Linked DNA regions of Homo sapiens. The protein of the gene in region 7 purifies or fractionates together with the protein of the main gene of each other region. This does not show direct contact. Each region holds a gene or a part of one and is shown on either strand. Other genes may lie near its edges. The genes, in order: STK25, ARHGAP18, SNX9, CCDC43, ROCK1, PLCB3 and ANAPC16.

Region 1 (3,207 bases), on a different chromosome or scaffold from region 7:
CCCACTCCAGAAGCAGGGGCGTGGGCCCTGGGGGTGAGGGTGACCAGATATAGTGTTGGGCAGGGACCCCCTCAAGGCTGCAGGACAGGGCCTGCTGAGGCATCAGCTGGACCCCGTGGCCTGGCAGAGCCCCGTCTGGTACCTCGGGTTTCCCTTGGCCGTGAGGTGTGCCCTGAGGCCCTCATGCCTCCTGGCCCTCTCCCCACTGGCCCTGGCAACTCCTCATCCTCTTCAGTGATGGCGAGGCGGAGGACGGGGAGCAGGGCCCCATCTGGACGTTCCCCCCTACCATCCGGCCGAGTCCACACAGCAAGCTTCACAAGGGGACGGCCCTGCACAGTTCACAGAAGGTCTGTTCCTGGCCTGGCCTTTGCCCTCTGTGCACCCCTGGGGCCGTGGGATGGGCTGGATGCGGGACCCAGCTTTGTCCACCCAGTGTCTGGAGCTTGGACAAGGAGCTTGGGAAAGGCAGGGGTGGTCTGAAGCCCACTGTGGCACTAGGCCTGGTGTGGAGACCCCGAGCCCCAGCATGTGCCGGGAAGATGAGGGCCTGTTTGGAGCCAAATTTGTGAGGAGAGGGTGGGAGTCACAGGCCCTCAGAGTCAGGAGAGGGTGGGAGTCACAAGCCCTCAGAGTCAGGAGAGGGTGGGAGTCACAGGCCCTCAGAGTCAGGAGAGGGTGGGAGTCACAGGCCCTCAGAGTCAGGAGAGGGTGGGAGTCGCCCTCAGAGTCAGGCCATCCGGGTGGCTTGATGGTTTTGGGGCCGGCCCTGGACATGTGCCCCGACAGGCTGCTCCCAGCCTCTGTCTCTTCAAGGCTAGAGCCTGGGCAGGGATGGGAGTGCCCTGCCTGTCACCTGCACTGCCCTGCTCACCCTGGGCCTCCACTCCTTTGCAGCCTGCGGAGCCCGTCAAGAGGCAGCCGAGGTCCCAGTGCCTGTCCACGCTGGTCCGGCCCGTCTTCGGAGAGGTGAGGATGGGGCTGGGACTGGGCCTGGAGTCCCGTCAAGGACAAGGCTGTGACACTGTTGCACGGAGATGTCTCCCTCACAGCACTGTGGGGTGGTTTCAGCTTCTAGCTTTCCTGCAGCTGATTGTGGGCTGGGTTTTCTGAGTGGAAGGAGCAGAATCTGCTGCAATGACTCCTTTTGTACTCCCAGACCTGCCAAGGTTCTCTGGGTTCCTAGGGTGACTTTTTTTTCTTCAGGTGCAAACACAGATGATCCTTCTATAGAGAAAGCAGAGAAGGTTTAGTCGGGGTCCATCCCCGGGCAGGTGCCGCCCTGGTTAGTCACGTGACCCTGCATCAACGTCACCTGCTGATGGGCAGTCAGCACCGTCCTCAGAAATGTGATACAGCCAGGATCTGTGTGCCCAGGGCGTGGCCAGCGGGCTTGGGCCCAGGTGTGCCCTCCAGGAGCCCCACCTGGAGCCTGGGGAGGGAGGATGGAGGATGTGGGTGAGAGGTGGTGAAGGCAGGGCCTGCCTGAGGACGGCAAAGGGAGGAGCACGGTCGAGGGACGTTGGCCCCAGCCCATGTGGAGGCCCCAGCGGGAAGCAGCCACTCGGGTCCAGGTCCTGGGCAGCCTGCTGATCCAGCCACAGCCCCCCGAGGGTGGGTGACACCCGGTGACAGGAGGCTCAGATGCTGGTGTCCTGATGGAGGTCAGATCTGGGCCTGGCGGTGCCGTGTGCTTTGGGGGTTTCTGGGCTTCGTGTTTTTGGGTCTGATTAGACCCATTGAGTGGCTTCCATGACCCTCGGCTGGGAGGAAGCCATCTGGTCCCCTCCTGAGAACCGAGGTCCGAGATTCCCCGGAGTGTAGGGGGAAGGTAGGTGCTGTGGGGAAGGACCACTAGGGTCCCCGTTGGCAGGGCAGGGGCAGAGGCTTCCTTGGGCCACCTCACTTCCCGGCTTGCTGAAGGGCTCCCGGGTGTGGCTCCTAGGCGAGAGCCCTGAAGGCCTCCGGCATCACTGTGGCCGAGCAAAGGAGCAGGCTCCCTGAAGGCCTGTCCTGGGGTCCAGGGTCAGGCGTGGTGGTCTTTTCACAGCTCAAAGAGAAGCACAAGCAGAGCGGCGGGAGCGTGGGTGCGCTGGAGGAGCTGGAGAACGCCTTCAGCCTGGCCGAGGAGTCCTGCCCCGGCATCTCAGACAAGCTGATGGTGCACCTGGTGGAGCGAGTGCAGAGGTGAGGGCGGCCGTGCCATAGGGTCGGGGAGAGCACCCCCACCAAGAAGCTGGACGTGGGGTGAGGTCCAGTGCTCACTCGTGGGTGTGGCTGCATTTGGCACTACATGGGCTCGCTTCACTCTGGGAAGGCGCGGCGTGGCATCCTCTTCCTTGTTTGGACCCAGCTCACAGGGCCATGGAGACTTTGGGGCTGGAGAGAGTGGGCAGGGCCTTTCCAGTCTAAGGGTCTGAGGCAGTGTCTCAGGGTCCCGGCCTCAGTGGCCACATGGCTGTCCTCAGCTGGCCTCTGCCCCTCCACCTGGTGGCTCCCGGGAGCTACTCTGACACGCTGGTGGCAAAACGTCAGAGCTGCCCCTGTGCTGACTCGAGTCCTTAGCAAAGAGACAGGGCAGGACAGATGCTGGGCCCTCCACCGCCCAACGGACTTAGGGTCCAACCGCCATGCCGCCGGCAGATGCGCCAAGTCCTGGTCCACACACAGGGACCCCTTCCCGGCGCCCCTGGGCAGCAGCTCTGGGGGTGGGGTCTGGGCCAGTCATTGCTGCTCCTGAGACCCTGTGCATTGGGGACACCTTCAGACCCACGTGGTGCGGTGGCTTGTCAGGGCTGCCACCGCAGACTGCACACCCAAGAGGCCGTCAGGAGCCTGGGCACAGAGGTGCACGCACGCAGCAGTGGGCTCTTCTCTCTGCAGGTTTTCACACAACAGAAACCACCTGACATCCACCCGCTGAAGCGCACTGCTGTTCAGATAGGGGACGGAAGGTCGTTTGTTTTTGTTCTGAGCTCCATAAGAACTGTGCTGACTTGGAAGGTGCCCTGTGCTATGTCGTGCCTGCAGGGACACGTCGGATCCCGTGGGCCTCACATGCCAGGTCACCAGGTCACCGTCTCCTTCCACCCCTGCAGTGTGCTGTTGTGCACGTCAGGGACGCTGTTCTCTATGCCCACTGCCCTCCTCCCTCTCCTGGCCCAGCAGTATTGCTCACGGGGGCTCCAGCCGCCGGCGTGGCCCTCA
Region 2 (3,500 bases), on a different chromosome or scaffold from region 7:
CCCAGTTGGACACCGGGTGCAACCTCTAATAATTCAAGAAGAAACTATGGATAGGGTTTTTAAACCACAGTGAAGAAAATGCCTTTACAAAGGACTCTTATGTCATGAAATTGAAGAAGAGATTGATCTGGAAAACAATTATCCCCATGGACAGGTTTAAATCCATTTAGTCACTAAATTCTATGAAATTAGAATGAGGAAATACGCTTTAGAAGCTAAGGTTAGAAAAAATAAAATTTAAATATTACACAATTGCATTATAAAAACTCATTACCATCCCTTTTTTTCAACAACAAAAAAATATATATATATGATCAGGTAATAATACACTAATTCAGAATGAAGAAACTTTTTAAATGGTATACTACATAGGTTTTTAAAATCCTGTGAAGATTCATGTAAAAACACTGAACTAATCAAGACAGCCAGCCATGTTCTTACTTTAATGTTTATCTCAAAAAGATATTTCTCAAAACTGAGCTTCAGGCCAGGCGTGAGGGCTCACACCTATAATCCTAGCACTCTGGGAGGGCGAGGCAGGCGGATCACTTGAGGTCAGGAGTTCAAGACCAGCCTGGCCAACATGGTGAAACCCCATCTTCACTAAATATACAAAAATTAGCCAGGCATGGTAGCAGGCACCTGTAATCCCAGCTACTGGGGAGCCTGAGGCATGAGAATCGCTTGAACCTGGGAGGTGGAGGCTGCAGTGTGCCAAGATGACCCCACTGCACTCCAACCTGGGTGACACAGCGAGACTCAGTATCTGAAAACAAAAAACAAACAAAAAAAAACTGAGCTTCATGTCTCGCTCAACTTACCCCAGCCCCCTTATGCCCCTCTGCAAGTCCTCCCTATCTAAATTAATGATCACTTTAACATTACAAGTTTCTTAGGGCAAAAACCTTGAATCTTCAGGTATTCTCATTTGTCCATCTCCTACAGGCCCTAATGTCAAAAGATTCCACTGCTCACCCCGTTCATTACTAAAACAACTGAAACCCTGGCCCAAACCACCACTGCCTTAACCTATTAAGCAGTACCACTGCTTCTACACTCTATAATCAATATAACAGCCAGAGGGACCTTTTAAATGTGCTCTCTTCCTCCACTGCTCAAAACCCACTCCCTCAATGGCTTCCCATCTTACTTTCAGCAAAAACTCAAGTCCTCAAATGTTCTATAAGGTTATCAACTCCCACCTTGCTTTCTTCTTCCTCCCTCCTCCTTATCCTGACCCCTGCAGTCATGCAGGGCTCTTTGCTCTCTGGGTGCTTGGTTTCAGACTTACTCTATCTAGGCTTATGGCTTCTACACTCTCTACCCACTATCTGCCTTAAAAACTCTTCTTCTAATTCTTGCCCCCAGATATTTTGGGGCTCACCTGTCACCTGCTCAGGTCTTTATTTTCCCCTCCAGGCTACCCTCCCTGCACCCAGATGTTTGTCTGGTTTATTTCCCCCCATTACAACCCCAGTATTTAAACAATTGCCTGACACACAGTAAGAGAGAGCTCTTATATGTGGAATGACTGAATGATTATGCTTGCAGAACCAAGGAATGGGTGAGACATGAACAAGTCAAGAACTGAGATAAGCTTATAAAGATGATAGTCCTCTTCCATTTGGCATGCTGGGCAGTAGTAGTTCTTAAAGCAGAGGAAGGAAGCATGGAGACAGGAGTGAGTCCAGCTGCCAAAAGAGGATCCACCCACATTCTATCTTGCCATAGAGTCAATATTTGCAGACCTCAATGCCCATCAATACCCCCCAAGAAAGGCCTGGTATAGGCAATTGTTACCAGTTCAAATCATAAATGGTGCTATGGATCAGGATGATATTTCCAAGGTCTTTCAAACTTCAAAGGCCTAAACTTTTACATTATGGTTCATTCTCAAATATGTCATTTTTTAAGCATATGGATAATGCCCATGTTTCTTAACACATGACAAAATAATATTCAGAAAAACGCTTCTGAAACAAGGGAGAATATTCTATATCCTGCAAAACTCAATCCTTTCTTTCCTTTTCTTTACCTAGTATTAAGGAAAGTAGCAGCTAGCTACAAACCAGACACTCTTCTATGGGCTTGACAGAGGTCATCCCACTCAGTTGTCTTAATCAGGTGAGTAATATTATGAAGTTCAATTTATGGGTAGAGAGATAACTCCTCCAAGGTCACACTGCTAATGAATGAGAGAGCTGGGATATGACCCCAGACAGGTTGGCCCCAGAACCCAGGGTTTCTGGGTTTATGTCACCCCTGTGTAGTGCCTCTTGTTTCTGCCTACCCAATACCAATGGCAAGTTGGGTCAACAAGACCTTACATGATGAATGCCATACATTTATTCAGAGAAGGCATAAAAATATCTCACTCATCAGTCCATTCAGTTAGCTAAGGAATTAAAAGGCCCAATAAAAAAGGTTACTTGACATTCATATTAAAATATTAGCAAAAAATATGCAAAGCAAACAACCATTTCTCTTAAAATGGGAAGGTAAGAGAGAACAGTAAGAATAGACAAAACACAATATTCTTCGAAAAAATTCTTTTCAAAACTAAATATTAAGAAGCCTGCTTGAAAAACAAGTAAACAAAGTCTTATAAATATAGCTACTCATAAAAAGTGGTTTCCTTTGGAAACATTCAACTGTGTACAAGTCGGCCATGACAACTAATGTTAACATATTTCTTCAAATCCTCATGTTTTGAGGAGGAAACATACAAAAGAAAAACAGGATTCTATAAAGGGAGAGGCTCTAACCAGGAGTGGGAGGAATTCCTTAATCTGACATTCAATGACTGTTTTCTGATAAAGAGGGATAATGGAATGGAGAAAATTTAGCTAACAAATTACTTCCAAAAATATTAATTCCCTACTATCTCAGCTTTTCAAAAGACCAAATGGTAATAAAAAAGGACATGGAGCCGGGTGCAGTGGCTCATGCCTGTAATCTCGGCACTTTGGGAGGATGAGGTGGGCAGATCATCTGAGGTCAGGAGTTCGAGACCAGCCTGGTCAACATGGTGAAACCCCGTCTCTACTAAAAATACAAAAATTAGCCAGGGGTGGTGGCACTCGCCTGTAATCCCAGCTGCTTGGGAGGCTGAAGCAGGAGAATCACTTGAGCCTGGAGACGGAGGTTGCAGTGAGCCCAGATCGTGCCACGGCATTCCAGCCTGGGTGACAGAGTAAGACTCTGTCTCAAAAAAAAAAAAAAAAAAAAAAGACTTGGTATGGCTAGGCTAAAAATCAAACACTTTCAGGCTGGGCGCAGTGGCTCATGCCTGTAATCCCAGCACTTTGGGGGGCCAAGGTGGGCAGATCACCTGAAGTCGGGAGTTCGAGACCAGCCTGACCAACATGGAGAAACCCCGACTCCACTAAAAAAAAAAAATACAAAATTAGCCAGGCGTGGTGGTGCATGCCTGTGGTCCCAGCTACTATAGAGGCTGAGGCAGGAGAATAGCTTGAACCTGGGAGGCAGAGGTTGTGGTG
Region 3 (3,500 bases), on a different chromosome or scaffold from region 7:
AATGTGACACAAGCCCTTCGGTTTCATTCCACATTTTGATTGGTGGTAGATTTTCTGTCTAGGTGATATTTAGTTGTAGATTCCCAAATGAAATTCTGGAAAAGAGAACTGTAGCTATCTTCTGATCCTATTGACTTAACCCTGTAACAATTAGATTGGGAACCTGAAGCCTTGAGTGTTCTCATCCTGGACTCAATCGAGGATGAGGAAACATCTGGTCTTATTCTGTAGTCTTTGGAAACTTGATAAAATTGCAGGAATAGTATTAGATTCTCTAATTACTTGTGCCTGCATGTTTGAAAAACTCCAAATCCTGGAAGCCTCCAAGCTGAAGAGCTGTAACCAAGAGCCCTTTTTATGCTTTTTCCCTCAAAGCAAATTTGGGATAATTAACTTCTGAGTAGTTATATTAAAGATTTTTTTTTCCTGTTTTCTCTGGACTTAATAAAAATTGAACATGTACCATTATTCTTTTCATGACATTTAAAACTCCTCAAAATCAAGAGCGCACAGCTCTGCCTCAGTTTTGTTTTTTTGTTTGTTTGTTTGTTTTTAAGACAGAGTCTCACTCTGTCACCCAGGCTGGAGTGCAGTGGTGTGATCTTGGCTCACTGCAACCTCTGCCTCCCGGGTTCAAGCAATTCTCCTGCCTCAGCCTCCCGAGTAGCTGGGATTACAGGCATGCACCACCACGCCTAGCTAATTTTTTTTGTATTTTATAGTAGAGACGGGGTTTCACCATATTGGCCAGGCTGGTCTTGAACTCCTGACCTTGTGATCCGCCCACATTGGCCTCCCAAAGTGCTGGGATTACAGGTATGAGCCACTGCGCCCGGCCTGCCTCACATTCTTAAAGGGGACTTTGTCCCAGGTTTGCAGTGGTGGTACAGAGCTAAGGGTTCCAGCCTTTCATTGACCGGCAAGTTTTAAGTAGAACTGCACCCATGCACCCAGTAGGCAGGTCTGCCTGTGTGGGCGTCTATACATGGAAGAAGCTGAGGAAAGCCACCGCGTCTTCAGGAGGCCCAGAGAAAGCAGAGACTAACTCTTTGCTCTAAAAGTGCAGTAACCTTGCCCACTCATGAAACAGAGCCCCGTGAAATTGGGCCTTAGCCAAGCACAGTTGCTGCTCTCGGCCCACTCACTGAGGGAGGTCCCGAAAGTCATCTCCTCTGCAGCTTTCAGCTAGTTTCTTGGATCTGGGCTCTCCCTGAGGGGGTTATAGTAATTGTTCTCAGAGATTTTAGTCTCTTTTTAAACTACTCTTATCCTTGGAGTAGGTCACCTTCCTGACCTAACAGCCTCTGAACTTTAATATCCCAATCCGCTTTTCCCATCTTCCTCTTAAAAAAAAAAATTAGGACTGGGTATACCTTTTTTTCCTTTTTATGTCTGTCTGGCCTTGCCTCTCTGAGGTCTCAGCCGAAACAAATCTCTCTTCCTTCAGCGCAATCTGTGTGATTTTTCTCATTTTCTTTTTACTTTCTTATGGTACTTTTTCAAGTCTGCAAGAATAAAACCTGTTCCATAAATTATTTCATTCTCCTTGAATCTCTGAATGAATCTCTGAGTGAATCTGCTTCCTGAATAGTGGTCCTTTTACAGTCCATGTGTTTGTTTTTTCATTCTCTTCTTGGATTATAACTCAATTATTTTTCATTTTCAAGCCAAGAAGATAGATAACATTCTCAGTATAATAAGGACTTCTATTGCTCTGAAATGTGTTTTGATAAGAGCTACTGTCCTGCAGTCTGAACCTCTAGAATCTGTCATTGTGATCAAAGTTTATGAAATGAATGAGGCAGAACCAACTTGAGACTATTGGTGACTCAGGTAGTGATTCCAGAAGCCTGTACATGAGCTCCAGCATCCAGGTTCCTCTGCAGCTGCCCCCATGGCCTTGGATGCTGTTTTAAATAAGATGAAAAAACCAGGTTTGGGACAGCAGACCTATTGTCACCTAGCAGTGCCTAGAAGAAATGATCCTCAGGCTCAAAACTTACACGAGGTCTCTACACCCCCACATAGAATTTAGCTGGTTTCCCTTCCTCACCTCCCACCACAACTAAAACCCCAGTGAGCTAGTGTAAGCCTCGCCTGAATTTGTGAACTTTTGCCCTAGTCACAGATAGAAGAGAAGGCCAGTGAGAAAAGAATGGAGGCCTACCCTCTTCAGGCAAGCCTTGCCCAGGTGGACGTGATACCCGGGGGTTGGAAGTGAGCCAGCCCACTGTGCTTAGGCACATAGCAGTCCACGGAAGAAAACAGCTAGCCTGGTTCTTGCTTTTAAGATGTAGTACCTCCCCCTCCCCCCACCTTGCCACTAGTAGTAAAACAATGACTATCAGGCTCTGGCCAATCTGATTAATCGTTTCTATGAGCCAGAACAATGCTACTCAAAGTATGGTCCACAGACCACTTGCCCATCTGAAAACTGCTTGTTCCTGATCCACCGTGAGATAGGTACAGTACATGAGAATATTTTGAAAACTTGAGGACAATTTGGTATTGTTGAAAAATCAAAATGTGTAATGTTATATTTCACCAAACTATTAGTCTGTGATAGATTCGAAATTTTTAAAAACTAGTCCTTCATCACGTGTAGCTTGAGACAGCTAGACTAGAAAGAAACATTGTCTTGTAACCAGCACTGTCCTTGGGAGAGGGAAGCTGGTGTCTCCTCTCCATGGGCTGAGCTACTCACGTGGGAGCAGAAGGGTTTCCCACAGGTGTGTTCTTTAAACATAATATCTAACAGGAACAGAAACCATTGAACCATTTATGTACCTTTCAAAGAGGAACAAGAATGACCCTCCAAAGGACTTCTCATTCTGAAAAGAATTACTTGCTGATTCACATCAATTGTATTTATTATTTTTCCATGTAACAAAATTACTTCTTTCTGGAACATTGGCATAGGTTGGAGATTATGGCCCAATGTGGGTTTATCCTACCTCTACTTTTGACTGTGTGGTAGCAGATCCCAGGAAAGGCTCCAAAATGTATGGTCTAAAGAGCTACATCGAATATCAGCTAACACCTACTGTAAGTATCCACGTTATCAAAAGCAGAATCATGTTTGGATCACTGATTGCAGCTTGCTTTTTTCTTCATTTTCTAGAGTTGGCATTGGTAACCTTTTCTCTTTCCCTTATTTTGTAGAACACTAATCGATCTGTAAACCACAGGTATAAGCACTTTGACTGGTTATATGAGCGTCTCCTGGTTAAGTTTGGGTCAGCCATTCCAATCCCTTCTCTTCCAGACAAACAAGTCACAGGTGAGTGTGTGTAATGCTAAACCCAGGATGACAAATAGAAAGACTCCAGTCAGATTATCTTCCTGTAAGTCAGTGATGGCATTTTCCATCCTGTAGAGCAGCAGGATGCAGGAGTTGGAAACAGTAATTAAATACAGCTATGAAGAGAGAACCATTGCATGTTGTACATCTATCTGGAAGTTGCCTAAACGTCTCACAAGAACGTTTAATGTGCAAATCA
Region 4 (4,136 bases), on a different chromosome or scaffold from region 7:
TCTAAATTCCTCATATTAAATCCTAGCCCAAGTCAGGCACAGAGGCTCACATCTGTAATCTCAGCACTTTGGGAGGCCAAGGCAGGAGGATGTCTTGAGCCCAGGAGCATAAGACCACCCTGAGCAACATGGCAAAACCCTGTCTCTACAAAAAAAAATTTTTTTTTTTTAATTAGCCAGGCATGGCTGGGTGTGGTGGCTCACGCCTATAGCCCCAGCACTTTGAGAGACTGAGATGGGTGGATCACTTGAGGTCAGGAGTTTGAGACCAGCCTGGTCAACATGGTGAAACCCCATCTCTACTAAAAATATAAAAATTAGCCAGGCATGGTGGCATATGCCTGTAATCCCAGCTACTCGGGAGGCTGAGAATCACCTGAACCCAGGAGGCAGAGGTTACAGTGAGCCGAGATTTTGCTACTGCACTCCAGCCTGGGTGACAGAGTGAGACTTTGTCTCAAAAAATAAAACATAAAACATAAAAAAAAAAGTTAGCCAGGCATGATATGTGATGGCAGGTGCCTGTAGTCCTAGCTACTTGGGAGGCTGATGAGAGGGGATTGCTTGAGTCCAGTCGTTCAAGGCTACAGTGAGTTATGATCACATTACTATAACAGAGCGAGACTCTCTTAAAAAAAAAAAAAGGCAAACTAATGTCTACCTTTATCAACAGAAACAGCTCCAAATAATGATGGACTGATCAAGAAGCTGGTACCAAGAAGTCTCAAAGTTATTTCAACAGCTTCATGGAGTGTTTAGAAACTTCCCAGCTGTAAATAAAAACTACCTTAAATTGCTTGCCTCCTACTCTTTCTCCCTATAATCTGTAATGTTGTGGTCCAAAAAAAGAATTGATTCCACTGTCTTGTATTTCCAGTGAACTTCCAAGCTTCCTCACAGGCTGTGTTAAAGTTTTCCCATTTATAAGCCAATCTTGCCAGAAGAGGCTCTGGAACTCAAATGGGTTACTGCCAGAAGAATCTGGGACAGCTGCACTAGTGTTATATTTCAACCATGTACCCAATCTATGAACTGCTTCCACCAAATGTGAGTGATTTTTTCCTAGCACTTGTTTCCGCTTTCACAAAACACTTTTGGATTTGAAAATGTTTCTGCCTTCTACCCTTTTAAAAAAATGAGATATGAATATGTACATTTATATCTATATATATTTATACTAATTTTTTTTTCTTTGAGACAGGGTCACTCTGTCACCCAAGCTGGAGTGCAGTGGCACAATCACGGCTCACTGCAGCCACAGCCTCCTAGGCTCAAGTGATCCTCCCACTTCAGACTTCTGAGTAGCTGGGACTACAGGTATGCGCCACCATACCTGGCTAATTTTTTAAATTTTTTTGTAGAGACAGGGTCTTGCTATGTTGCCCAGTGTGGTGTGGAACTCTTGGCCTCAAGCAATCCTCCCACCTCAGCCTCCCAAAGTGGTGAGATTACAAACATGAGCCACTGTGCCCCACCTCATGGTACATTTTGATTCTATTACTAGCCTTTCAAAATTGGTTTTGAGAATAACAAAGAACCCATTTTTCTAACCTGTCCATTGTAATAAATGCCAGAGGATAAAGCCTTTGATGGACAGACAGGTGGCTCTCACAGTAGCAATCAGGTATCCAGGATCTCCTCTAATCCATGAATGCAGAGACAACTCTAGCTTCTACAGCATTTAGTGATGATTCAAGTAAATTTTATTTTTAAGCTTGTATTTAAAAGGAAACAATTTGTTAGACAGCCACAGGTAGCACCTACAACCAATTTAATCTGTAATAACCAGTCTAATAAGTGTGTATGTTGGAGGTGTGGGAAGTGAAGATGAAGGCAGCAGAAATGATCAGGTTGAAAAAGTGGACATCTGGGTGACTTACTATGTAAACATAGCTTAAAGTACACATTTCTGAATACCTTGCTTCTAACAGGCTAAGGACTAAGTTTCTCTCTCTTCGTTAAAGCTCTGATCTCTCTCATACCCTCCTTCCCACCACCAATGATTACTGTAAATACTGTAATGGATCAAGCACGACGTTTGCTTCAGTTCTGCGTGGGCATGAAAAGACTTCTACCACCAGCTTACCTTTTATGGACTCCTACATCCATATAAGAATCAAAAGGGCACTTCCTGCAGGCTTCTGTCATGGGACAGCCCTGGGAACTGCCTTGTAATAGGCACAGACCTCCCAAGAGCATTTTAATACCCCCAGTGAACACTGTAAACGGATGGAAATGGAATTGGTCGTCAGATATTTATGATAACATTCCCATTCTGACATTTCAATGCCTTCGGAAGAACCCTCCTCGGCTCACTCACAAGCATCGGAGAGGGCCTTGTCCCCAAGAATACGAGAAAGCCCTTCCTCTCTGTGTACCTGCAGCTTTCAGGCTTCCCACACCTGGTTGGGGAGCAACCTCCTTCCCCCGCCGCCCAGATATCAGAGGAGTATACCTCTCCCAGGTGAGACCACTGAGCCTCTGGGATACCCGGTAGGGGAGGGAGGGTGCAAAGTACTGACAGGTCCTCAGATGCTGGCCAGAGGCTGAAGGAATGTGTCCAGGCTACTCACCAGGAAAGCAGAGAGGATCCCCTGCAGAGCGTCCAGCTTCTCTTCTTCCTCCTCCTCCTGCAGGATACCCAAGATGTAGGCTCCATAAACGGCTCGGTCCACTCCCAGTGCCTCCAACCGTCCGTCCAGCCAGGAGCCAAAGCCGCCGCCTCCGCCATCGCCTTCGCCAGGGGCTATCGCGGCCACTTCGCTGGGCGCCGCCATCTTGGGGTCAGGGTCCTGCAAGCCCCTAGGGCGCCTACCGCAGTGCCTGACGGGCCGCGCCGCAGGTCCACCGCGCATGCCTGAAGAGGAAGCCCAGGCCCGTAAGTGCAAAGAGCGCAGCCGTGTCGGCCGGCTTGAGAGTTTTGTGCTTTCTAGATGAAGCGCGTCTTCGCATACGTGCGGTCGCGTGATCTCACAAGATGCTTGGCATGTGAGTATTCTTAACAGACTCATTCTACAGTTCGGGAAGTTGAGAGAGGTGCAGTAATTTGGCCAAAGTCACGCGGCTAATAACTACCCAGGACTGGAGCTCAGCGTGGATGCCATCGCTTCCTCCACCCGACCGAGCTGCCTTCCCCGCGCTTTCGGGGGATGCTGGCCGCCCACTCCCACACAGCTGTCTGGCAAGAACCTCCTGACAGCCTGGAATACCCTCGTCGTCGCTACCGACGGCTACCACCTTCACCTGTACAAGCCCTTCCCTGTCAAAGTAAAGGTTGCAGAAAACCTTCCCTGATTCCATGGTAGGCACTCAGTAAATAAACAGGCAACCTCAAGTTATTTCTTCCACTCATTGATTCAACGCGTGCACGGGACTATTCTTTGAGAAGCGTACCCCACCCTCTGCTAGGCACTGTGCCAAAAGCTTTTCATGCATTATCTCTTGTAATCCTCCCTACAGCCCTGTGGGGAGATGCTTTTATTGTCCACATTTTAAAGATAAGGAGACAGGCCGGGCGCCATGTCTCACGCCTGTAATCCCAACAGTTTGGGAAGCCGAGGCGGGTGGATCACCTGAGGTCAGGAGTTCGAGACCAGCCTGGCCGACATGGTGAAACCCCGTCTCTAGTAAAAATACAAAAATAAGGCCGGGCACGGTGGCTCACTCCCGTAATCCCAGCACTTTGGAAGGCCAAAGTGGGCAGCTCACCTGAGGTCTGGAGTTCGAGACTAGCCTGACCAAAATGGAGAACCCCCGTCTCTACTAAAAATACAAAATTAGCCGGGCGTGGTGGGACATGCCTGTAATCCCAGCTACGTGGGAGGCTGAGGCAGGAGAATCGCTTGAACCCAGGAGGCGGAGGTTGCGGTGAGCAGAGATCGTGCCATTGCACTCCAGCCTGGGCAACAAGAGCGAAATTCCGTCTCAAAACAAACAACAACAACAACAAAAGCCAGGTGTGGTGGCGCGGGCCTGTAATCCCAGCTACTCAGAATCGCTGGAACCCGGAAGGCGGAGGTTGCAGTGAGCCAAGATCGCGCCGCTGCACTCCAGCCTGAGCGACAGTGAGACTCCATCTCAAAAACAAACAAACAAACGAACAAACAAAATCACTAAAGATAAGGAGACAGATATGG
Region 5 (3,500 bases), on a different chromosome or scaffold from region 7:
CAAGTTAAATTAGAAATACAGTATTTCTTTGCCTAGGAGATTTGTATATTTACTGAAAATATTACAGTTTAAAAAAATTCTCAGTAAAAGAAATTCAAATAGTGTAGAAAATTATGAAGAAAGGATATCTCCATGTAACTCTTCTGAATAATTATGTTATAGTCATTTTGCATATACAAGGGTCTTTGTGGCATTTATGTTTGTCTTTTTTTAAAACTAGACTTGCAACTTCTGTAATTTGATTATTTTACTTAAATCTTTTATTAACATTTTTGCCACTTTTTAAGTGAAACAATTTTGTTTAACATTAATGAATGTGTTTTGTTTGTTTTTTCTATTTGTATAGCTTTTTTATGCATTCCAAGATGATCGTTATCTCTACATGGTGATGGAATACATGCCTGGTGGAGATCTTGTAAACTTAATGAGCAACTATGATGTGCCTGAAAAATGGGCACGATTCTATACTGCAGAAGTAGTTCTTGCATTGGATGCAATCCATTCCATGGGTTTTATTCACAGGTAAAGATAAAAGTGCTTTAAATTTTCTCATTTGTTGAGGGAAATAGCTAAAAATAACTTTAACATTTCTTACTCTCAGTTCACCCATTCTTCTTCCGTATGACATAAGTGACCTTTCAGAACTCAAGACTCTGGCCAGGCGCTGCCTCACGCCTGTAATCCCAGAGCTTTGGGAGGCCGAGGCAGGCAGATCTCTTGAGCTCAGGAGTTTGACACCAGCCTGGACAACATGGTGAAACCCATCTCTACAAAAAAAAAAAAAAAAAACACAGGTGTGGTGGCATGCACCTGTGGTCCCAGCTCCTTGGGAGGCTAAGGTGGGAGGATCGCTTGAGCCTGGGAGCAGAGGTTTCAGTGAGCTGAGATCTAGTCACTGCACTTCAGACTGGGTGACAGAGTGAGATTCTATGTCAGGAAGGGGGGAAAAAAAGAACTCCAAACTTTGAAGTTTATAATTTTAGCATTTCAATTTAATGTTGATATAAATGTATTCTTTAATATCCCTTAATCTGATCATATAGCCTTTAAATGGTGTTCTGAAAAGTAAAACTTGTAAACTAGTTTTCTAAGGTATGTGCCAGGAGTTAAACACTTTGATGTTAATTTTTTAAATATGTAACTTAATTTGCTTTTAATTAGTGAATAGGTCGTATTTATTCATTAGACGAATAGTTTCATTTGTTGTACAAACACTGCTTGAATCCTGTGTGCAGTTGCTGTGCCTACATGTCAGGGATCAAAAATGAAAGTGACTTAGACCCTGCCGTGGGGTTTTTTTATGTACTTACCTATCTAATATGTTTCAATCACCTTTTATGTCTGAGTGTTGTATTTTTGATGGTCTGTCTCTCTCAAATGATTTGATTTTCCCTCTGAAAGAATGAAACTTTTAAAAAAGGAATATATATGTTTTCTTCTGAGGCATTAACATATAAAGAAGTTTCTTTGATGAAATTTAATTTATAGATGTGGATAGAGAACACATACAGATCAAAGATGGCCTTACCTAGATTGAGGATGCTTGACCTAAAATAACTGCCTCATATAATTTTTACAGTGTCTAATCTGTTTCAGAAAATACTGTACTATTTTTTCCCTCCTGCAGAGATGTGAAGCCTGATAACATGCTGCTGGATAAATCTGGACATTTGAAGTTAGCAGATTTTGGTACTTGTATGAAGATGAATAAGGTTAATTAACTAGATTTTAATTTAGTTTTTGCTAATTCAAGGTAGATGCTTCTTTAGAAAATGGTTTAAGAATTCTTTAGAAAATGGTGTAAGAATTTACTAACCATAGCTGGACTTGTCCAGAATTAATATGACCTTATTTGTTGAACTAGATACCATGGTTTCAATGTTGTATTAGTAACTTGTTAGTGATTTATTTTTTCCTCTCTATTTAGGGTAAATATGGATTGCCAGATTTACTAAATCCTTCATAACAACTCTAATATACACTACTGGTAACTAGGAATGGAATTAGCTTAAATGTCACTAAATACTTATGCCAGTGTTAAAATTAGACTTTCATAAAAATTGGATTCCAGTAATGTGTGTATTTTTTAGTGTTTTACTTCAGTTAACATATAAAAGATTTTACTGCTTATTTTAGGAGTGAGTCTTAAAAGATACCTATCCTCACTGTTTATATAATAAATAACATATACACAGCTGTATATGTATATACATATTATGTATATGTATATACATATACATTATGTATATGTATATACATATAATAAATAACATAAATAAATATGTTATTTATATAATAAATAACATATACACAGCTGAAGGAGCTGAAGGAGCTGTGTATATGTTATTCCTTCACTTCATATACACAGTGAAGGAAACACTGCATGAGAACTTCTGTATGAACATTTAGTTATAATGCTGTTTCATTAATACCAGCGAATATAGGTAACAGCTAACAAGTCTCTCAGGTTTGTTGGGGGAGGGCAGTTAAAATTCACATCAAATAGACATTCAGTGTGCTTTACACTATTATGCCCTTTTCCCATACATATGCTTCCCCAGTTTGTATTTGTACAGTCAGCTTTTGTATGTTTCTTTTGTAGTTTCAAACATAGTTAAATAGCTATTTTAGTAGAAAATAATGAAGTCAGTGTTTATACCAATATGTTGTAAAATGCCCTATCCTATGAACTCCCCAGTGTATTTGCACTGGCCTGTGTACTTGTTCTCAGCAGTTAAATGGTTTCATGATATTGGCACAACTTGGGGAATAATAAATGTGGCAGTATGTTTTTCTAGTGAGCATTATTACAAAATAATCACTGGTGTGTGTATATATGTGAATACACATATAATGTGTGTGTATATGCATTCACATGTATACACATACATACATTATATGGTATATATGTATATGGTGTGTATATAGTATGTATATATATGATTAAGCTGTGTTAATTTTTGTCAGGTTTCCATTCAGTTTTAATATATGATATTTTATAGCTCAAAGATTTGGAGTCCCATAGGTAATATTAATAAGAAAGTCATTTTAAATAATTGAGACTTTATATCCTAATTCAAAATTTGACCTGCCGCGCTTTTTAGGAAGGCATGGTACGATGTGATACAGCGGTTGGAACACCTGATTATATTTCCCCTGAAGTATTAAAATCCCAAGGTGGTGATGGTTATTATGGAAGAGAATGTGACTGGTGGTCGGTTGGGGTATTTTTATACGAAATGCTTGTAGGTGAGTAAGGAAGATTTTATGTCTCTCTATTACAGTTGTTCATCTCAAAACTTGCCACTTGGCTCTTTCTAATATATTTATTATATTAAGCAATCTTGATTTTATTTGTGGGTAATAAACATGATCCAAACCTGCTTCGTATGTGTTTTTAAAAGCATTTAGAGGCTTAGAGCAACTTTGTGATGTGTTCTTTTATATATTAGGTGTATGTTTTTAGTTTAATACATACCTAATAATCTTTTTAAACGGGT
Region 6 (3,500 bases), on a different chromosome or scaffold from region 7:
GTTGCCCACCACCATGCCTGGCTAATTTTTGTATTTTTAGTAGAGATGGGGTTTCACCATGTTGGCCAGGCTGGTCTCGAACTCCTGACCTCAGGTGATCCACACGCCTCAGCCTTTCAAAGTTCTGGGATTACAGGTGTGAACCACTGTGCCTGGCCTCAATCCAATCTCTATAGAGCACCTGGCATCATCCTTCTAAAAACATATCATATCAGGTCACATCACCTCTTCTGCTTCACCCTCCAAAAAGCCTCTTCCTCACACCCAGGATGAATCCAAGTGCCTCTAGGCCCCTGGGCTTAGCCCTGCCTTGCTCTCCCTCTCTTAGCAGGCACCTATCTCCAGCACTCTGCACCCTGCCGCACCAGCTTCCTTTCTGCTTTTTTATTATTTATTTAATTTTTTTTTTTAGAAAAGGGTCTCTCACTCTGTCACCCAGGCTGGAGTGCAGTGGTGCAATCACAGCTTACTCCTGCCTCAACCTTCCCAGAACCAAGCGATACTCCCACCTCACCCTCCCAAGCAGCTAGGACCACAGGCATGCGCCACTATGCCCAGCTAATTTTTTAAAAATTATTTGTAGAGATGGGGTCATGCTATGTTGCCCAGACTGGTCTCAAAACGTGGGCTCAAGTAATCTGCCTGCTTCAGCCTCCCAAAGTTCTGGGATTACAGGCATGAGTCACCGCACCCAACCCCCTTCCAGCCTCTTAAAAGCACCCTGCAGGCTGGGCGAGGTGGCTCATGCCTATAATCCCAGCACTTTGGGAGGGCGAGGCAGGCGGATCACCTGAGGTTGAGAGTTTGAGACCAGCCTGACCAACATGGAGAAACCCCATCTCTACTAAAAATACAAAATTAGCCGGGCGTGGTGGCGAATGCCTGTAATCCCAGCTACTTGGGAGGCTGAGGCAGGAGAATCGCTTGAACCTGGGAGGCAGAGGTTGCGCTGAGCCTAGATCGTGCCATTGCACTCCAGCCTGGGCAACAAGAGCGAAACTCTGTCTCAAAAAAAAAAAAAAAAAAAAAAAAGGACCCTGAAGTCTCTCCTGCTGCAGGCCCTAACACAAGCTGTTCCAGCCCTTCCCTGGGAAAGCCACCATGAGGCCCCACTGCTCAGGGCTGGCTGCCTGTTCCCTGCCTGCATCCCCAGCACTGGCCAATGAATGAGCAAATGGGCCAAAAGGACTGTGCCCCAGGAGGAGTGGGGCTGTGCAAGGGTCACAGGGCAGAGGTCACGGGTGCCACCCTTGCTCCCCACTCACCAGTGAGATAGGTGTTATGCGAGGAGTTGATGAAGTAGGCACTCAGTGGCTGGGTCATGTCCGTGCTCAGATCCAGGGCTTCCAGGGGCAGGATGCCATTCTCCTCGCCTCCCAGGTAGCGGCTAAAGCCCTCCATGGACATCTGGTCTGGGGTGGGAGAGGATCAGCAGGGTCAGCTGGGGTCCCACCTGCCCCCACCCACCTGCACCCCAGCCAGCTCACCTCGCTCCAGAAACTGCTGGTTGGGCTCATACTTTTCGATGAGCAGCCGGGCCTGGGAGGGCCGCAGGGGCGGGTACAGCACTTCGTTGAGTCTCGGGTCGCGTTGCTTCTGGTTGATGAAGTCCATGAGCTGCTCCAGCGTCAGGTATGGCTTGCCCTTGGCGCCTCTGGAGGGGACAGGAAGCTGGGTCAGGATGGAGCCTGGCAGGGCTCCCACCCCGTCGCCAAGCCCTTGCCCTGGGCAAGGGAGTCAGAAGGCCTGCCCCTGGATCTGGCACCCAGTGAGTGGGACTCTGGGTGAGTCATGGCCAACCTCTGGGCCTCAGTTTCCCCCTTTACTCTCCTGACTACTCAGGATTGTCAAGGCAGCAGACTAGTGGGCACCAGCAATGGCCAGGGCTTAGGAGCTGCCAAGTGGTCAGCCCACCACCCCTCGCTTCCAGACCTCACAACACACCTGAGGCTTGGACCCCATTGCAGAGTGGGCTGATTAAACCAACCCTGGCACAGGGTTAGCCCAGAGCTGCCTGTAACTGAGGGGCAGAAACGGCGGGTCTGAGTACAGGAACATCACCGACAGGTTCTCCCTGGGCACCCCTCCGCCCCCTGGCGCTCCAGGACCCGGCCCACCAGTTTCCCCTCTCCCCATTGAGCTAGAGGCACGCTAAGCAGAAGCTAAACACAGAGCACAGGGGTTGTGAGGCAGGCCGGGCCCACTCACATCTCCAGCAGGATCTTGTCAATGTCCGGCCGCAGACACAGCTTGTTCAGGAACCGCTCAAAGATTTCCAAGGAAAACTCATCAGGCCGGATGGACTCACTCTGGAGGTCGAGGAGTGTGGGGTGAGAAGCCAGGGGCGGGCAGCCCCGTAAGGGTGGGTGCCCACCGTGACACCCCACCCCGCCCCTGTCCCCACCCCACACACCCGGTTGAATTTGAGGCCACAGGATTCCAGCGCAGTCTCCACCCGCTTCTTGTCTGCTGAGAACATCTTCAGGATGCTGATGCGGGCAGGAGGGGTTCAGGGTCAGTGGAGGACAAAGGTCACCAAGGTCAGGGCAGGAGGAAGGTGCTGGGGGAAGGGGTGCTCACTTCTTGACGGGGATCCGACCATCCTGGTTCACCTGCAGCTTCAGCTTCGTGTATCTGGGAAGGCAGATGAAGAGGTCACACCCTGAAAACGGCCACGTGAACCCCCCGGCTCCCCCTCGGGTGGCCTGGGGCTCACGCTTTGCGCAGGAAGGTGTTCCGGGAGGCGTTCTGAGCCAGGATGTTCATAGCCAGCTTGAATAGCTCCTCAGACCAGACCTGGGGGGCCAGTATACACGGGGAGGCGGTGAGTGGGGGACACAGGGGCTGCCCAGCCACAACCCAGGTCCACAACTGCCTCTGGTACACAGTAGGTCACAGAGCAGCCTAGAACACAGCAGGTGTTCGGTAAGTGACGGCCGACTCACAGAATAAGACAGTGACTCCCCCTTCGTCCCCTTGGTGCCAGCCCACCTTGGCTGTGTCATCCTGCACGGCCATGAAGTTCAAGAACACTGTGTTCACTGGGTCTGGCCCAGACACCACCGTCATCAGCTTCTCCTCCAGCCGGGCATCGGGACCCCCAAAGCCCAGAACTTCCCGGATCTTGGGGTCCTGAGTAGGTGACAGCGAAGGGTGAAGAGGGGGCTCCCGCACAGCCTCGCTGTGGTCTTCACTCCCAGGCTCATCACTCACCTTGGGCAGGCGGGCGTACCGGCCTGTCCGTGTGTCCCTGATGGAACTGATGTCCAGTGTGTCCACCTCCTGGGGGGAACCAGATGCCAGGCTGAGTATGAGAGGCTGCAGGGCAATAGCCAGGAGCTTCCAAGCTCTCTACCCAGGCCAGGGAATGGCCAGCCCCTGGCTATAGCCCCAGCCTCAGCTCCTGCCCTGAGCACTTCCTGTCTGGGCAGCAGTGGGAGAGGTCAGCCTGCAGCCGGGCCCCACCCCCACGGGCAGGGCAGGGGTCTGGGACAGGGGTC
Region 7 (3,349 bases):
GCTCGGATGGAAAAACTAGCTGGTTTGGTAGAAGAGCTGGAGGCTGACGAGTGGCGGTTTAAGCCCATCGAGCAGCTGCTGGGATTCACCCCCTCTTCAGGTTGATACTGCCTGGATGGTCACCTCTGGTGCGCAGCAAGTGCAAAGCCAGTGGGGGACTTTCTCACAGCTTACATAGCCATCCAGAGATCCACAGCTACGTCACTGAATTGTTAATGCACATTTGTACTTGGTTTCTCTGTATCTATTCACAGGCAACAAATACTTATATGTGTGATCTTTCAGGGAATGTTTTGTTTATTTGTTTTTAAAAGTATTGGGAATCAGATTAAGACAATCAGTTTCAGAGAACCAGGAGGTTTGGGGTTAAGAGATACTCAAAAATTTTCACAAGCCAAGTAGGGCATATATCAGATTTGGCCAACTGAATGGCGTCTGTCCTGTCATCCATATGGTGCCTGGAAATATTTACCAGTCAAGGTCAAGGTCAGCATCTGTGGTTAAAAATATAGCATTCTGACCTAAAAAAGTTATTTTGCAGATGAATGTGTTTTCAACTCAGGACCTATCCAAATGAGGAATTTTTAAATATTCTTTTTTTTTTCCTATTTTTAGACATCAATTCTATAGATTCTGACTTTTTCTAACCTCTTATAGACATGCCAAATGCTGGCAAAAAGAAGTGCTTTTTGGATATGGCAGCACTTGTAAAAATAAAGCAGTAAGCAAAATCCTTTTAAACACAGAAATCCTGAGTTCTTCTCATTGGTGGACTCAAGCAATTCTGTAGCAAATAAATCCTTTGAAAGAGCTCCAAATTGGTGGCATTATCCTTTCAAAATCTCAGGGATTTGGGATGAAGTGAAGAGGTCAAATTACTTTTTAGAAGAAGGGAATCTAAAAACCATCTCTCCTAAACAAATGGTAGACTGGCTTTACTTAAGGGATATTTGTCTTTATAGGAGTACATAAATTTATCTTAATGATATTTAAGTAGTTTTTTTTTTTTTTTGAGACGAAGTTTTGCTCTTGTTGCCCAGGCTGTATCGCAATGGCGCGATCTCTGCTCACTGCAACATCCACCTCCCAGGTTCAAGCAATTCTCCTGCCTCAGCCTCCCAAGTAGCTGGGATTACAGGCACCCGCCACCACACCCAGCTAATTTTTTGTATATTTAGTAGAGACGGGGTTTCACCATGTTGACCAGGCTAGTCTCGAACTTCTGACCTCAGGTGATCCACCTGCCTCAGCCTCCCAAATTGCTGGGATTACAGGCGTGAGCCACCTTGCCCAGCCAATTTTTTTTTAAAGAGACATGGTCTTGCTATGTTGCCCAGGTTGGTCTTGAACTCCTGGCCTCAAGAGATCCCCCCAACCTTGGCCTCCAAAGTGCTGGGATTACAGGCATGAGCCACCGCGCCTGGCCTCAAGTAAGTTTTTATACCATGATAGGGGAAAACCTGGAAGGCTAAGAGATGTGCTGTTTTCCTTCATGGGACCCCACTTTCCACAGTAAACAACTGGTATAATCATTTATTACGTTGTATGCAAATTTTGCCTTAGACAACATTTGTCTGGTTCCTTATTAATAACTTGCATCTGATCTGCTTAGAGTTGCTTAATTATAAGTAAATATAATCCCAGTAGCATTTAGCCTTAATCTCAAGAGTTCAAAATGTTTAACACATTCTACCTGACGGGAGGTGGTGACCTCATTCAGTCGGTTAAGAGCCTGAGCCCTGTGAAGTTAAACACCTGCTCATGGTCACATAGCCCAGGCAGAAGAAAATCTCGGACTTGGAATAGATCCCAGTTGCCTGATAATTCATCTCATTATTGCCTCTAAAGCAAATTGGAGACTGGGCACAGTGGCTCCCACCTTTAATCCCAGCACCTGGGGAGGCTGAGGTGAGTGGATCACTAGAGGTCAGGAGTTCAAGACCAGTCTGGCCGACATGGTGAAACTCAGTCTCTATTGAAAATACAAAAATTAGCTCAGTGTGGTGGCACACACTTGTAATCCCAGCTACTCAGGAGGCTGAGGCATGAGAATCGCTTAAACCCAGGAGGCGGAGGTTGCAGTGAGCTGAGATCACACCATTGCACTCTAGTCTGGGTGACAGAGCGAGACTCTGTCTCAAAAAAAAAAAAATAAAGCCGGGCGTGGTGGCTCACGCCTGTAATCCCGGCACTTTGGGAGGCTGAGGCAGGCGGATTGCCTGAGATCGGGAGTTCGAGACCAGCCTGGCCAACATGGTGAAACCTTGTCTCTACTAAAACTACAAAAAAAATTAGCCAGGCGTGGTGGCGGGCGCCTGTAATCCCAGCTACTCAGGAGGCTGAGGCAGCAGAATCGTTTGAACCCGGGAGGCGGAGGTTGCAGTGAGTGGAGATCGTGCCTGTGTGCTCCAGCCTGAGCAACAAGAGCGAAACTGTCTCAAAAAAAAGAAGAAAATAAATAAATAAAAATCAGAGCACAAGAAGTACCAGTCCACCAACTCACATTTTCTATATTAATAATTCTTAACTAAAAGAAGTTCCATATTCGACAGCATTTTAGTTTTTTAATAGTACTTATTAGCATCAACCATCTTGATAATCACCAAGGGAAAAATTAAAAATACCTAGACTGCAATAAACCTTTAAATTGGATTTTCAGTGAGAATTTAGAAGCAATCACTACCTTTCTCGTTTCATTTGTGTAACCATGCAGCATAGGCACTGTGTTACATCATCTTTACGCTTTGGTATTTGAACTTATTACAGAATTTTTTCTCTAAATTGGATGTTTCTTTATATGACCTTGGAAACTGAAGTGATCTTAGCATTAAACAAAAATGCTTTTTGAAGCACCTTTCTCATTGATCACTTAGCTGCTATTTTAGTCTTACCAAGAATAAGACTCTCACAATTTTTTAAAGAGAGTACCTCCCTCTCTATACCTTTTTGTCAGTCATTATGTTGCATCGTCCACAACGCCTGTTACTATGCTTTGGGCTCAAAGATGGTCCCAGTTGCTGATCTGTCATCTGTCTTCTCTTGTGCCAGTCACTCACAGGCATGAATTATAATCCTCTGAATAACACAGCAAGATACGTAATACCCCCTAATATAGAAAAGGAACTTGAAGCTCAGAGCAAGTGTCACTTGCCAAGGCTGCACAGCTAAGTCAATGGCCAAATCTGGATTTAAGTTCAACTCAGCCAGAATCCAAAGCAGCTTCTTTTAGATTCACTATGCCACATCCCACCAAACCCAACCCAGCACATTGTATTAGGAAAAATCCTAAAACTTTTGATTAAATGGTAAAAGGAAGTAACTACCTGGAGAAAATAAGGCTTCCGCTACC

What was found.
Region 1: the proteins of ANAPC16 (region 7) and STK25 purify together in Homo sapiens (affinity purification with mass spectrometry; one large-scale study listed by BioGRID and IntAct). This does not show direct contact.
Region 2: the proteins of ANAPC16 (region 7) and ARHGAP18 purify together in Homo sapiens (affinity purification with mass spectrometry; one large-scale study listed by BioGRID and IntAct). This does not show direct contact.
Region 3: the proteins of ANAPC16 (region 7) and SNX9 purify together in Homo sapiens (affinity purification with mass spectrometry; one large-scale study listed by BioGRID and IntAct). This does not show direct contact.
Region 4: the proteins of ANAPC16 (region 7) and CCDC43 purify together in Homo sapiens (affinity purification with mass spectrometry; one large-scale study listed by BioGRID and IntAct). This does not show direct contact.
Region 5: the proteins of ANAPC16 (region 7) and ROCK1 purify together in Homo sapiens (affinity purification with mass spectrometry; one large-scale study listed by BioGRID and IntAct). This does not show direct contact.
Region 6: the proteins of ANAPC16 (region 7) and PLCB3 purify together in Homo sapiens (affinity purification with mass spectrometry; one large-scale study listed by BioGRID and IntAct). This does not show direct contact.

What each region holds. Positions count from the first base shown.
Region 1 is NC_000002.12:241,495,378-241,498,584, reverse strand, and holds part of STK25 (serine/threonine-protein kinase 25), read left to right. Parts: intron 1-235; coding exon 236-350; intron 351-897; coding exon 898-969; intron 970-1,206; coding exon of another isoform or gene 1,207-1,233; exon of another isoform or gene 1,234-2,024; intron 2,025-2,050; coding exon 2,051-2,187; intron 2,188-2,883; coding exon 2,884-2,923; 3' UTR 2,924-3,207. UniProt on the Homo sapiens protein: Oxidant stress-activated serine/threonine kinase that may play a role in the response to environmental stress.
Region 2 is NC_000006.12:129,703,678-129,707,177, forward strand, and holds part of ARHGAP18 (rho GTPase-activating protein 18), read right to left. Parts: intron 1-3,500. UniProt on the Homo sapiens protein: Rho GTPase activating protein that suppresses F-actin polymerization by inhibiting Rho. Rho GTPase activating proteins act by converting Rho-type GTPases to an inactive GDP-bound state.
Region 3 is NC_000006.12:157,906,746-157,910,245, forward strand, and holds part of SNX9 (sorting nexin-9), read left to right. Parts: intron 1-2,919; coding exon 2,920-3,045; intron 3,046-3,162; coding exon 3,163-3,280; intron 3,281-3,500. UniProt on the Homo sapiens protein: Involved in endocytosis and intracellular vesicle trafficking, both during interphase and at the end of mitosis. Required for efficient progress through mitosis and cytokinesis. Required for normal formation of the cleavage furrow at the end of mitosis.
Region 4 is NC_000017.11:44,686,977-44,691,112, forward strand, and holds the start of CCDC43 (coiled-coil domain-containing protein 43), read right to left. Parts: upstream 2,801-4,136; 5' UTR 2,778-2,800; coding exon 2,574-2,777; intron 2,038-2,573; exon of another isoform or gene 1,965-2,037; intron 1,318-1,964; exon of another isoform or gene 1,202-1,317; intron 1,048-1,201; exon of another isoform or gene 878-1,047; intron 773-877; exon of another isoform or gene 674-772; intron 1-673.
Region 5 is NC_000018.10:21,042,314-21,045,813, reverse strand, and holds part of ROCK1 (rho-associated protein kinase 1), read left to right. Parts: intron 1-346; coding exon 347-522; intron 523-1,627; coding exon 1,628-1,712; intron 1,713-3,104; coding exon 3,105-3,249; intron 3,250-3,500. UniProt on the Homo sapiens protein: Protein kinase which is a key regulator of the actin cytoskeleton and cell polarity.
Region 6 is NC_000011.10:64,254,530-64,258,029, reverse strand, and holds part of PLCB3 (1-phosphatidylinositol 4,5-bisphosphate phosphodiesterase beta-3), read right to left. Parts: intron 3,283-3,500; coding exon 3,214-3,282; intron 3,133-3,213; coding exon 2,992-3,132; intron 2,797-2,991; coding exon 2,717-2,796; intron 2,635-2,716; coding exon 2,581-2,634; intron 2,490-2,580; coding exon 2,414-2,489; intron 2,310-2,413; coding exon 2,209-2,309; intron 1,655-2,208; coding exon 1,488-1,654; intron 1,413-1,487; coding exon 1,266-1,412; intron 1-1,265. UniProt on the Homo sapiens protein: Catalyzes the production of the second messenger molecules diacylglycerol (DAG) and inositol 1,4,5-trisphosphate (IP3).
Region 7 is NC_000010.11:72,233,012-72,236,360, forward strand, and holds the end of ANAPC16 (anaphase-promoting complex subunit 16), read left to right. Parts: coding exon 1-105; 3' UTR 106-2,849; downstream 2,850-3,349. UniProt on the Homo sapiens protein: Component of the anaphase promoting complex/cyclosome (APC/C), a cell cycle-regulated E3 ubiquitin ligase that controls progression through mitosis and the G1 phase of the cell cycle.